3 linked regions of the Homo sapiens genome follow. The protein of the gene in region 1 purifies or fractionates together with the protein of each later gene. This does not show direct contact. Each region holds a gene or a part of one and is shown in the gene's direction. Other genes may lie near its edges. The genes, in order: XKR4, SDK2 and QNG1.

Region 1 (3,648 bases):
TTTTAACCACCTTTCAAGTTTCTAGACTTATGTAAATAATTCAAATACTTCTCTATCCTGTTAACTGAAAAACTGTAATTTTTTTTACAGATTGATTCTTTATGAAAAATCTGATATTAAATTCTGTGAACCGAGGAAGTCCTTTTAATTATAGTTGTGTTTACTATACCTTCTAAACCAAACATCTCCCCAATTGAAAAATGATTCTTAATTTTCTAGGGGAATAATATACAGAATGTGAGAAATAATTAGGAAAAGATATGAGCCTAAAAACATGTCAGAGAGACCATAGCCACTGGGCCAACTTATCATACAGAAAAGTTATTTCAGAGGTAGGGAGTGGGGGCGGGGAGAGAAGGGATGGAAGGGTAAGGTTTGAATGTAGAAAGAAAACCGCAGGCTGTCAGACAAATGTATTAACTGACCCAGACTTGGAGAAACTGTGGTCACACATGGCTCCTTTTAGTTAAGCATTTCTATAGTATTTTCCTTAGAGGCTTTAAAGTTAATACTGATAATGCATGATCATCTAGGAGGAATATTGTAGTTGGAAATATTATCAGATATAATATTCTGGAAATATTTGTCAACATTTTCAGAATAATGTGTGTAGTAGATAAGTTTGAATTATCATCTAATCTAACTATTCTCAGATTCTGATTAAAATATTTGGGGGATGCCAGAGTAATCTGGTGAAAGCGTGATCTAAGACTAATCAGCATCATTTTCTGTTTATGAAGTATATTTTTCAAAAAAACAAAACTTTAGCCTAATGTAGGAAGTTGGAAAGGGATAAGAAAGCTTATGGAACTTAACACTCAGATGCGCTCTAATATGTTTCTATTTCTCTGAGTGTTGAACATTCATGTGGAACTTTGGGGGAGTAGACGCATCTTTGCTAATAAGCCGACGAAGTGCAACTCATCTCAGATTTTTCTATTAGACTCACTATGATTCCTTAAATTAGAAGCATCCCTGTGCCTCTTCTAGCTTTTCTTTTCAATACATTATACACAAATATTGCAGAAACACCAGAGTACTGAGTGGTTCAAAGCACAGAGGTCATTATTCATGTTTTAACATGCTACTTTCTGGGATCAATAAAATAGATTTTAGCTAGGTTGGTAACTGCTTCTTGTGTTTCCATGAAATTCTAATTATTTTAGGGAAGGACCAGATTCTAAAAGCTTTCTCTAAATACAGTCTTTTGAAATAACATCAAAGCATTTGCTTGTTTAGAAATAGCCATTGAAACATTGTGGGTAAGATTTGCATGTATTTATACATATGTTACAATGCAACTGCTAAAAGCAATGATACATATTCATTTTAATTAAAGTTTACTAATGGGAAATTAATGGCAGCTTTTAAAGTCGCAGGAGGTGAGCTTGGGAAAGAGCTATTTGAAATAATAAAGTGAATTTTTGCTACCATGTGAAAAGAGCAATTATGACTTTAAAGGAACTGTGCCTGTGAATGAATGCGAAAGTACTTTCCTTTCTTATTTTTCTCATATGATTCCAGAAATTACTAAGAGTGCAGTTTAGCCAGTGGGAATCACAAATTCCCTAAGAGAACAGTTTTTAGTCCTCATGCTTTTGATCAATTGCCTCCAAATGTCTTTTTCCTTCAGAAATTATGAAGTTTACTCTTAAAACTCTACCTGAATTTCTCCTATGTATGTATGTACATAGTTAATTATTTTCCAGAAAATATGCACATTGTAAATAATGAGTCAGTGGATGGTAGAGTGGGGAGCATTTTCACTATTCTTACTCTTCTGGGTTTTGTTTTTGAGTCTCCATCATGAGAGTCATCTGGGAAAAATGTGAGGAAAATGCAGTTTTTTCTGCTCTTGTCATGCTTGCTATTCCAGAAGGCACTGATTGTGTCCCATGTTCAAATAAGTTGGGAAAATGACAGATTAAACAAAGTTAAACAGCTCTCTCTACAGCAGGACTTCTCAGAGCCTTTTATAAGCTAAGGTACAGTTATCAGTTAAGTTTTTAAAGTCACATCTATTAAACATTCTTATAATGATGCATGCAAAGCACTTGGATAAATATGCCATTCTTAAAACTGGCCAAACAAAAATAATAACAATTTTATTGGCACTTTAAAAATATACAAATGTTTTTTTCTACTTTTTATGTCATCTACATTTTAAAATAACCTAAAAGAAAATTATTAGTATCTGTATATGTGAGACAACTGTCTCAGAGAGGTTAAGTAAGCGGCTTAACCTCTTAATAGGGTCACCCAACTATTATGTAGTGTAGTTAGGATTAAAAACGGGGCCCATTTTACCATACAGTCTATGCTTTTTCTGGCTGAACTGGCTACCTCCAAATGCCAACTTGGATAATGATGACAACAATGTATAAAAATAACAATTTACCTTCACTGTGGATGGCAAAGTGGGAAAGGGAGCTGCAGTTTAGATGGATTAGGGGATCTTTCCAATAACACACTGGTAGTTAAACAGTAAAACAGAGACTTGAGCTTAGCTCTTTGAACTCCCAGTTCATTGCCTAACTTACTATACCATTTGGACATACTGAGGTTGTTTTATTAAATCCCAGCTAAGGAACATGATCTCGTAGTAGTTTTAATGATTACATGGCATAATGTATGTGAATATGTGAAAAGTTAATTACAAATGATAAAGAGGTTCTAGAGATAAAGAATGGGTAGAAAAACTAAGGAGGATATAGGTTACACCTTTGACTATTAAAAAAGGTGGTCTTCAATTCTGAGTTAGTCCTGAATTCTGATATAGATTAGGCAAGATTGGTGCCATTTGCTGAGTTTATCAAATGGTTATTTTCTGCATATATGTGTTTCCTCTCTATACATATAAATTAATTAGTCATTCAACACACACTGAGCACCTGCTATGTGCAAGGCACTGTGCTTGTTACTAATTATTCCAAGATGAATAACATATATATATTTCAAGGAATCTACTCTCTAATAGGGAAGACAGAAAAGTCAGTAGACCATCTCAATAGAAGAAAATAAGCACGATAGAAACAGGAAACGCAAACTGCCTTGATGGTTCAGGTAAGACTCTCTGGAAGAGGGGATATCTGAGCAAAGGTTTGAGGGATGAGAAAAATCTGCTTTCTGAGTAAAGTGGGACATTGACTTTAGAGCCCTGGATGCAATGTGTAAAGGCAGAGAGGCAAGAAAGAACAAGGCAGGTTAAGTGCATGCTCTACATATGGAGTGAGGGAGGGAGAGTAGCTAGAGATGAGATGAAGAACTAGTTGGGCCAGATAATGAAAGGAATTTAGATTGTATTTTGAAGGCATGAAGGAGTCATGAAGGATTATAGGGGGTGAGGACTGTTAAGAAAAGTGTTAAAACACTGTTTTATTCAAAGGAATGGCAGAAAGTTGAAAGCTTCAGAGGCTATGTCATTATTCATCTCTGACTCAGTCATGTCTCTGTCATTCATGGAAATCTATTGGCTTCACAGGCTTTGAGTTTGGATGTCATTGGGACATATAAATAGACCCATCATAATGGGAGAGTCATTTTTCAGAAAAACAAGTTGGTTGAAAGTTTTAATTGTATTTATATTAAAATAATATTAAAGTAAATTATTGGCAAAACTTTCTTTGGTGTTACTATTTGAAGAGTTAT
Region 2 (4,313 bases), on another chromosome or scaffold:
AACAGAAGCCTGTTAACCCCAGCTGAGCTTCGTGGAGTAGGCGCTAGCTCTGGGCCACAGCAGAGGACGCCTCCGGGCTCTCTTGTTTGAATTCCTCCACCAATGTCCGGTTCTTCTACTCTTTACAAGCTGGGCTCCGAAGGAAAAAAGAAGAAACAAAGAACGCACGCTCCTTGGCACCAACTTCACTTTCTCAGGCTTCTGCAGGTCCCAGGCCTCCCGATGTCTCCCCCTCCGCCCTGAGCATTTCCAGACCTTGGAGAGCCTGACTTGGGAAGGGGAAACTGGAATCAATCGGTTGACCGACCCCCTTTTCCCAACCGCCGCCTCCCCACCAATCACTCCATGTCCGGAAGGGGGCTGGGGGCTCCCGACTATAGGAGACTCTGGGAGTCCTATGAGGCCTTTGAGACAGGGGCGCGAGCGAGGCTGGAAGGAAAGGCTGGGCAGAGAGCGGAGGGGCTCGCGCGCATCTCTCCCGGCGCGGCAGAAGGTTGGCACTGCTGCCCCCCTGCGGGTCCCAGAGCCGCTGGGCGCCCGCGGCCGCGCAGTCGGATTGTATTTCTGCGGGGCTCGCTCCCGGGCCTGGCTCGGGGCCGCCGCCGCCGCCGCCGCCCCTCCCGGCGCGCAGGCTGCTCTCCAGTCGCGGCCACGGGGTAGCGCTCGGCCCCCCTCTCCGCGTCTCCGCCTCCGCCGCGCTCGTCCCCGGCTCACGCTGCCCCCGCAGCTCCGGCTCGGCGCAGGCAGGAGCGGCTCTCTGGACGCCGAGCCCGGGAAGCGGAGGGCGGCGGGCTCGGCGAGCGGCAGCGGCGGCCGAGGCGCTGGGGCGGCCGTTGCTCCTCCGGCCCGGGAGGTCGGCGATCGCCGGGCGTCCGAAGGGGCGCCGCGTCCCCGGAGCCGGGGCTGCCCGCCGGGCTCTCCGTGCGTCTTCCCGAGAGCTCCGGCCGGGGCGCGGCGGAGGGCAGAGCCGCCGGTCTCCATCCTCGGGCCGGCAGGAGGCTCTGCGCCCGGGCGCCGGCGACAGCCCGCGTCGCGAAGCCCAGCACCCTCCCCCGCCGCCCCGCGGCTGGCGCGGACATGGGCGCTCAGGGCTGCGCGCCCGGCTCCGGGACCCGCAAAGTTTGCTAGCCGGCTGGGCGCGGAGCCGAGGGCGCGCCCGGCCCCAGCGCCCCCGGAGGAGACCCGGCGTCTCCCGATTCGGCGCGAGGGCGGTGGAGCCCAGAGGGGGTGGTTCGGCCCCGCCAGATGCTGCCTGCAAAGTTAGAGAGAAGAAAACTTCAGCTCCAGGGAGATTCGGACCGCTATGCTCACCGCGTCCCCCGAAACCGGCGCCCCTAAAAGAACCCCCGCACCCGCGTCTGCCACTGCGCTCGGCTCTGGCCGGGTCCCGGGGGCCCGGCGCCTGGAACGGCGGTGACTGCGTCGGCCGGGAGAACCCAACCAGGGGGCGGGGAGGGGGCGGGCAACGTGGCCACGGGAGGAAGTTTCCTGAAGTTGTCCATTTATTCCGGAGCTCGGCCGGCGACCCGGCCGGATCGCAGAGGCCGCCCTGTTTGGGAGAAGTCGGAGTTGGGGTGCTAAGGGAGAGAGGCGCCCTAGTCCGAGAGGGCGGCCTGGCCTCTTTCTCCCTGCTCGCCCCTCGCCTTCCGGGCGCGCTGCCGGGCTCGGACTAGTACAGAAGAGGAGGAAGGGTTGGGGTAGCCAAGCGCTGCCCCTCCCGGGCATATTACACCCCGGGGCACGGAGCCGCGTAGACTGACTGTTTCCTGGGACTAAGCCACGGGGTATCGGACCCCACCAGGATTATAAAACAGGGCGGAGGGAAGGGAGACCCCGAGGACCCCTCTCCAGGCTGGTCACCATGTGGGGGCTTTTGATCTGGACACTGCTAGCTCTGCATCAGATCCGCGCGGCCAGAGCCCAAGGTAAGGAGGGACCCCCACGTGGGGACAGGGAGGGGGCTGGGAGAGTGGGCGGGGGAGGGGCGGCGGGAGCTGGCCGGCCTCACGGTGACCTCCTGGACACCCGGCTTAGCCGTGGCAGAGCCCTCTCCAGGGAGTTTCAAGACACCCCATCTCCCAAGTTTTGGGGCTCTTTTGGGGGTGGGGCAGTCTCTCCGAGACTTGTGGCTTCCGAATGGGGGAAGGTGGGGACGACCTGGGGAGGCAGAGAAGAGCCCAAGGTGAAGTGGGAGGGGCGCTCCCCTCCCCCCGTCTGCTGTGGCTGCCCTGCGCCGGCTTGGGAGGGGAGCGACATTCCGTGCCGGGCTCCACGCTCGGCTACGCTGAGCTTCCCAGACCGAGCTCCTGGTTCCCTGCTCGGTGTCTGCGGGGAAGGGCAGGGCCCCTGCCGGGCAGGCGATGGCCTCCCCGGGGCGAGGGAGTGGGGTGGGCGAGCGCTGGATGCCGGGTTGCTCGCCCGGGGAGAGCAATTGCCCGGCTTGGCCACGTACGGGAGCCCGCCCCTGGCTGCTCGGCCAGCCGCTGGGGCTGGGGGTGCTTCGCTGCGCGGGCCTGGAGCCAAGGTCGCGGGTGCAGCCGCGGACCCACCGGGGGGTGGTGCACAGGGAGGGTCTGAGGCCTCCCCTCCTACCCATCCACCCACACCCAGCATCCCCGCCCCTGCCTCCAGCCTCCGCTGTTCGCTCGATAGTCTGTGCAGCCGCTCGCTGCTGTGACCTGTGGCTGCCGGGAGCAGCCTCGCGGTGGAGAAGGGCTGGTGGCTTTGGGTTTGGGAGTGCTACGAAGGATCCGAGGTGTGATCTGCGCTGCCCGCTTCCTGAGGGTGGATGCCCAGACGTCCCCCTGGTCCCCGGGCAGGTCCCCGAGGTGAAGGGCGGCTGCACCGGCGGTTCCTCGACTTTGGGGTTCGCCGATCCAGACAGTGGTGTCAGCGGTGTCCGAGCGGCGCCTGCTGGGGGCGGAGGGAGACGAAGCCTGGACCGAGCTCCAGGACTCGCAGGGCTAGGCCTTCACTCTCGCAGGCTCAGGAGGGGGCCAGACCCACCCTAGGGGTCCGGACTGTGGGGGCTGCAACCCACTCCCCACGCCGCCTCGTGCGCCAGGCAATCCAGAGAGCCAAGATCAAAGAGATGAAAATAATCAGCTCTCACTCACAGGGCTGAGGGGAGGATTTTACGAGGTAATTTACATAAAAGCACTTCGAAATTTTGTAACGAGCCCTATAAATGTAGGGTAATAAAAGTTATTATTTTTATGATCATCATAAAATCTTTGAACAAGCGAGGACCTCAGAGGTCATCTTATTCTAGTAGCCATTTAACAGATAGGGAAACTGAGGCCAAATGGCATTAAATGACTTGCCCAAGGCCACTCTGTGATCTGGGGGCAGAGGCAGGTCTGGAACCAGATGAGTTCTGAGCCTCTCTCCCTCAAACCAGGACTAGCTGCATGGGGTCTCCTTGGTCTGGGCCCCCTCTCTGAGGGGTCCCAGGAGGACCCTGATGCTGGCAGAATAGGAATGGGTTGTCCTTCATCCTGGAGCAGCCTCACAGTTGTGCTCTGGGACAACCAGTGTTACTAGCCAAAAGCCTGGACGGCGTGGAGGGACGGGATGCCAGCATCTGTCTGGACCCTTCTAACTTCATTGCTCTACAGACTTTTCAACAATGGTATGATTTCCCTGGGCAGGTGGCTCACCAATTCTTGTCTCATCTAGGACCAGGCCCTTATAGAGTCCCCAGGGCACCTGATGGCCCTTGCTTTGGGGTCTTCATGTGTCCCTTCCTGCCCCACGTCCACACCTGTGCCATCCACTTGAGGCCAAGATCCCACCCCTCCTGCTGAAGTTAAGGCCAGGTGGCCCCCTGTCCCTGCGCCTCCTGCGGGAGGGGCTTCCCTGTCAGAAGCAGAGAAAGTCTCTGTGATTGATTCACTTCCTCTCTGCCTTTCTTGTTTGCTGGCTTTTTGCGTGTCAGGCTGCCCAGGTCCCCTGCTGCTCCGCTCGTGTTCTCTGGCTCCGAGAGTGTTTTCCAGCATCGAGCCCTCTCCTGCTGTGTGTGTCCCTGGAGGCAAGCCTTGCAAAGGATTGTGGGAACGTGGTCCTAGGCTTGGCAGTGCTGGGTTTGAGTGTTGGAGGGGGTGGGATTAGGGCATGAGGTCCTTTCTTATCTGCTTTGGGGTTAGAGAGTGAGTTTTTTCCAGTCTCAGGCCATGACATTAATCCTTTGGGGGGTAGCTGAAGCCACTAGCACTGTCATTTCTGAGCCCACAAGCCTGCTTCTCCAGGCATGGCACAGAACGAGGGACGAAACAATTGTTCCTCCCTTGAGACAAACTTCACATCGACCACTG
Region 3 (3,648 bases), on another chromosome or scaffold:
ACACAGTGTACTTGAACAAATGATGATCATTTTGTTGGACCCTCACAGGCTGCACCCGGATTTTGTTTTTGTAAAATTCTTTTGGAATCTTTTGAACCTGGGAGGGGGAGGTTGCAGTGAGCCGAGATTACGCCACCGCACTCCAGCCTGGGTGACAGAGCTGGACTCCATCTCAAAAAAATAAAAGAAAAAATAAAAGAAATTGGCTTGGCGTGGTGGCTCACACCTGTAATCCCAGCACTTTGGGGGGCCAAGGCGGGTAGATCACAAGGTCAGGAGTTCAAGACCAGCCTGGCCAACGTGGTGAAACCCCGTCTCTACTAAAAATATAAAAATTAGCCGGGTGTGGTGGTGGGTGCCTGTAATCCCAGCTACTCAGGAGGCTGAGGCAGGAGAACCACTTGAACCCAGGAGCTGAAGGTTGCAGTGAGCTGAGATCATGCCACTGCACTCCAGCCTGGACGACAAGAGCAAGACTCTATCTCAAGAAAAAAAAAAAAAAAGAATTCAATTGTATTAGTGTGTTCTCACACTGCTATAAAGAACTGCATTTCATTTATAGCACAGTGCTTTGGTTTTGCTTTGCTGAAAAGTTCAATTTTTAAAAAATGTACCAGAAAGTGGCAGTATCTTGGCTCACTACAACCTCCACCTCCTGGGTTCAAATGATTCTCCTGCCTCAGTCTCCCAAGTAGCTGGGATTACAGGCATCCGCCACCATGCCCAGCTAATTTTGTATTTTTAGTAGAAACAGGGTTTCACCATGTTGGCCAGGCTGGTCTTGAACTCCTGACCTCAAGTGATCTGCCTACCTCAGCTTCCCAAAGTGCTGGGATTACAGGCTTGAGCCACCATGCCCAGCCAATCTGATACTTTTTTTTTTTTTTTTTGAGACAGAGTCTCACTCTGTCACCCAGGCTGTAGTGCGGTGACACCATCTCTGCTCACTGCAACCTCCGCCTCCCAGGTTCAAGCGGTTCTCTGCCTCCGAGTAGCTGGGATTCCAGGCACCCACTACCACGCACAGCTAATTTTTGTTTTTTTTTTTTTTTTTTCAGACGGAGTCTTGCTCTGTCACCCAGGCTGGAGTGCAGTGGCGCGATCTCAGCTCACTGCAAGCTCCGCCTCCTGGGTTGACGCCATTCTCCTGCCTCAGCCTCCCTCGTAGCTGGGACTACAGGTGCCCGCCACCACGCGCGGCTAATTTTTTTGTATTTTTAGTAGAGACAGGGTTTCACCGTGTTAGCCAGGATGGTCTTGATCTCCTGACCTGGTGATCCGCCCGCCTCAGCCTCAAAAGTGCTGGGATTACAGGCGTGAGCCACCGCACCTGGCCTAATTTTTGTATTTTTAGTAGAGACAGGGTTTCACCATATTGGCCAGGCTGATCTTGAACTCCTGACCCTGTGATCCACCCACCTTGGCCTCCCAAAGTTCTGGGATTACAGGCGTGAGCCACAGCGCCTGACCTAATCTGATACATTTTTAAATGAAAATTGGTACAGAAACCATTTCTCATGAGTACTTGTTTCTAACATACAGTTTTACAGAAAAATCCCCAAAATGGGCCAGGCATGGTGGCTCAAGCCCATAATCCCAACACATTGGGTGGCTGAGGTAAGAGGATTGCTTGAGCCCAGGAGGTCGAGACCAGCCTGGACAACACGTGAGACTCCATTTCTACAAAAAATTTAAAAACTAGCCAGGCGTGGTGGCATGCCTGTGGTTCTAGCTACTCAGGAGGCTGAGGCAGGAGGATCGCTTGAGCCCAGGAGGTGGAGGCTGCAGTGAGCTCTGATAGTTCCACTTTACTCCAGCCTGGAAGAGCAAGACCTTGTCCCCAAAAAAATAAATAAATAAAAATAAACAATTTGCACAAACTAGTCATGTGTTTTTAACGTATACCTATTTACTGAGATTATCATTCATTTTTAGACATGAACAGATTAATAAAGTTAACAATTTTTAATTTAGATAGATTTAGATCAGTGATTTCCCAACCTGGCTGTGCCCCAGAATCACTTAGGAGGCTTAATTCAGATATATTTCCAAAACACCACCCTCAAAGAGCCTGATGAATAGGTGAAAGAAGAGCTATTTTTTAAGCTCTTCAAGTTACTCTGATTTAGAGTAATGCAGTAACTTTGTAAAAGTTCTAATTAGCAAATTGGCTTTCTTATGACTATTACTGTTACTGTGACATACTGATAAATATAAAAAACATAAGCTTTTTGATATTTCAATAGATAACATTTTATTTTTTATTTTTAGTTTTTTTGTTGTTGTTTTTTGAGACAGAGTCTCGCTGTCACCCAGGCTGCAGTGCAATGGCGCAATCTCGGCTCACTGCAACCTCTGCCTCCCGGGTTCTAGTGATTCTCCTGCCTCAGCCTCCTGAGTTAGCTGGGATTAGAGGTGCGCACCACCACGCCAGGCTAATTTTTGTATATTAGTAGAGATGGGGTTTTACCATGTTGGCCAGGCTGGTCTCGAACTCCTGACCTCAGGTGATCCACCCGCCTTGGCCTCCCAAAGTGTTGGGATTACAGGCGTGAGCCACCATGCCAGCCTTTGTTTTTTGTTTTTTGTTTTTTGAGATGGAGTCTTGCTGGCGTGCAATGGCACAATCTCAGTTCACTGCAACCTCCGCCTCCCAAGTTGAAGCGATTCTCCCACCTCAGCTCCCGAGTAGCTGGGATTACAGGCACCCGCCATCATGCCTGGTCAATTTTTATATTTTTGTAGAGGCAGGGTTTCACCATGTTGACCAGGCTGGTCTTGAACTCCTGACTTCGGGTGATCTGCCCACCTCGGCCTCCCTCCCAAAGTGCTGGGATTACAGGCATGAGCTACCGCACTTGGCCTATGTTGTTCTTAACTTTTGTAATCCTTGAACTTTCTATTTATTCATGATAAAATTATGGAATAATTTTTTCAAAAAACTTAACTGTCCAGGTGCGATGGCTCTTTCCTGTAATCCTAGAACCTTGGGAGGCCAAGGTGGGTGGATCACTTGAGCCCAGGAGTTCAAGACCAGCCTAGGCAACATGGGGAAACCTCATCTCTGCAAAATAACAAGAAAATTAACTGGCCTTGGTGGTGAACACCTATAGTCCCAGCTATTCAGGAGGCTGAGGTGGGAGGATTGCTTGAGCCCAAGGAGGTCAAGGCAGCAGTGAGCCGTGATTGAGCCACTGAATTGAGCTACAGCCTAGGCAGCAGTGAGGCCCTGTCTCAAAAAAAAAAAAAAAAAGAAAAGAAAAGAAAAAAATTAACTCATGGTCATAGAGCTTTTTATTGACAATTATTTTATAAAGGTACGATTTAGAAAATATTTAAATCACAAAACAATATCATGAAACATGTAAGCAATTGTTATTTGGAGATTTACTAGTAGTTTTAGTGATACCAGTTAATATTTTAGAGATCCAGAATTTGATTACAAAAATCATTTGATTTCTAAAACCATAATGAGCTTACCAAGAAAATGTTTTATAGAGATGGCCAGGCGTGGTGGCTCATACCTGTAATCCTTGCACTTTGGGAGGCCGAGGCAGGTGGATCACAAGGTCAGGAGTTCAAGACCAGCCTGGCACACGTGGTGAAACCCCGTCTCTACTAAAAATACAAAAATTAGCCAGGCGTGTT

The links.
Region 2: the proteins of XKR4 (region 1) and SDK2 purify together in Homo sapiens (affinity purification with mass spectrometry; one large-scale study listed by BioGRID and IntAct). This does not show direct contact.
Region 3: the proteins of XKR4 (region 1) and QNG1 purify together in Homo sapiens (affinity purification with mass spectrometry; one large-scale study listed by BioGRID and IntAct). This does not show direct contact.

The regions. Positions count from the first base shown.
Region 1 is NC_000008.11:55,105,017-55,108,664, forward strand, and holds part of XKR4 (XK-related protein 4), read left to right. Parts: intron 1-3,648.
Region 2 is NC_000017.11:73,641,637-73,645,949, reverse strand, and holds the start of SDK2 (protein sidekick-2 precursor), read left to right. Parts: upstream 1-1,504; 5' UTR 1,505-1,861; coding exon 1,862-1,925; intron 1,926-4,313.
Region 3 is NC_000009.12:83,950,202-83,953,849, reverse strand, and holds part of QNG1 (queuosine 5'-phosphate N-glycosylase/hydrolase), read left to right. Parts: intron 1-6; coding exon of another isoform or gene 7-15; exon of another isoform or gene 16-198; intron 199-3,648.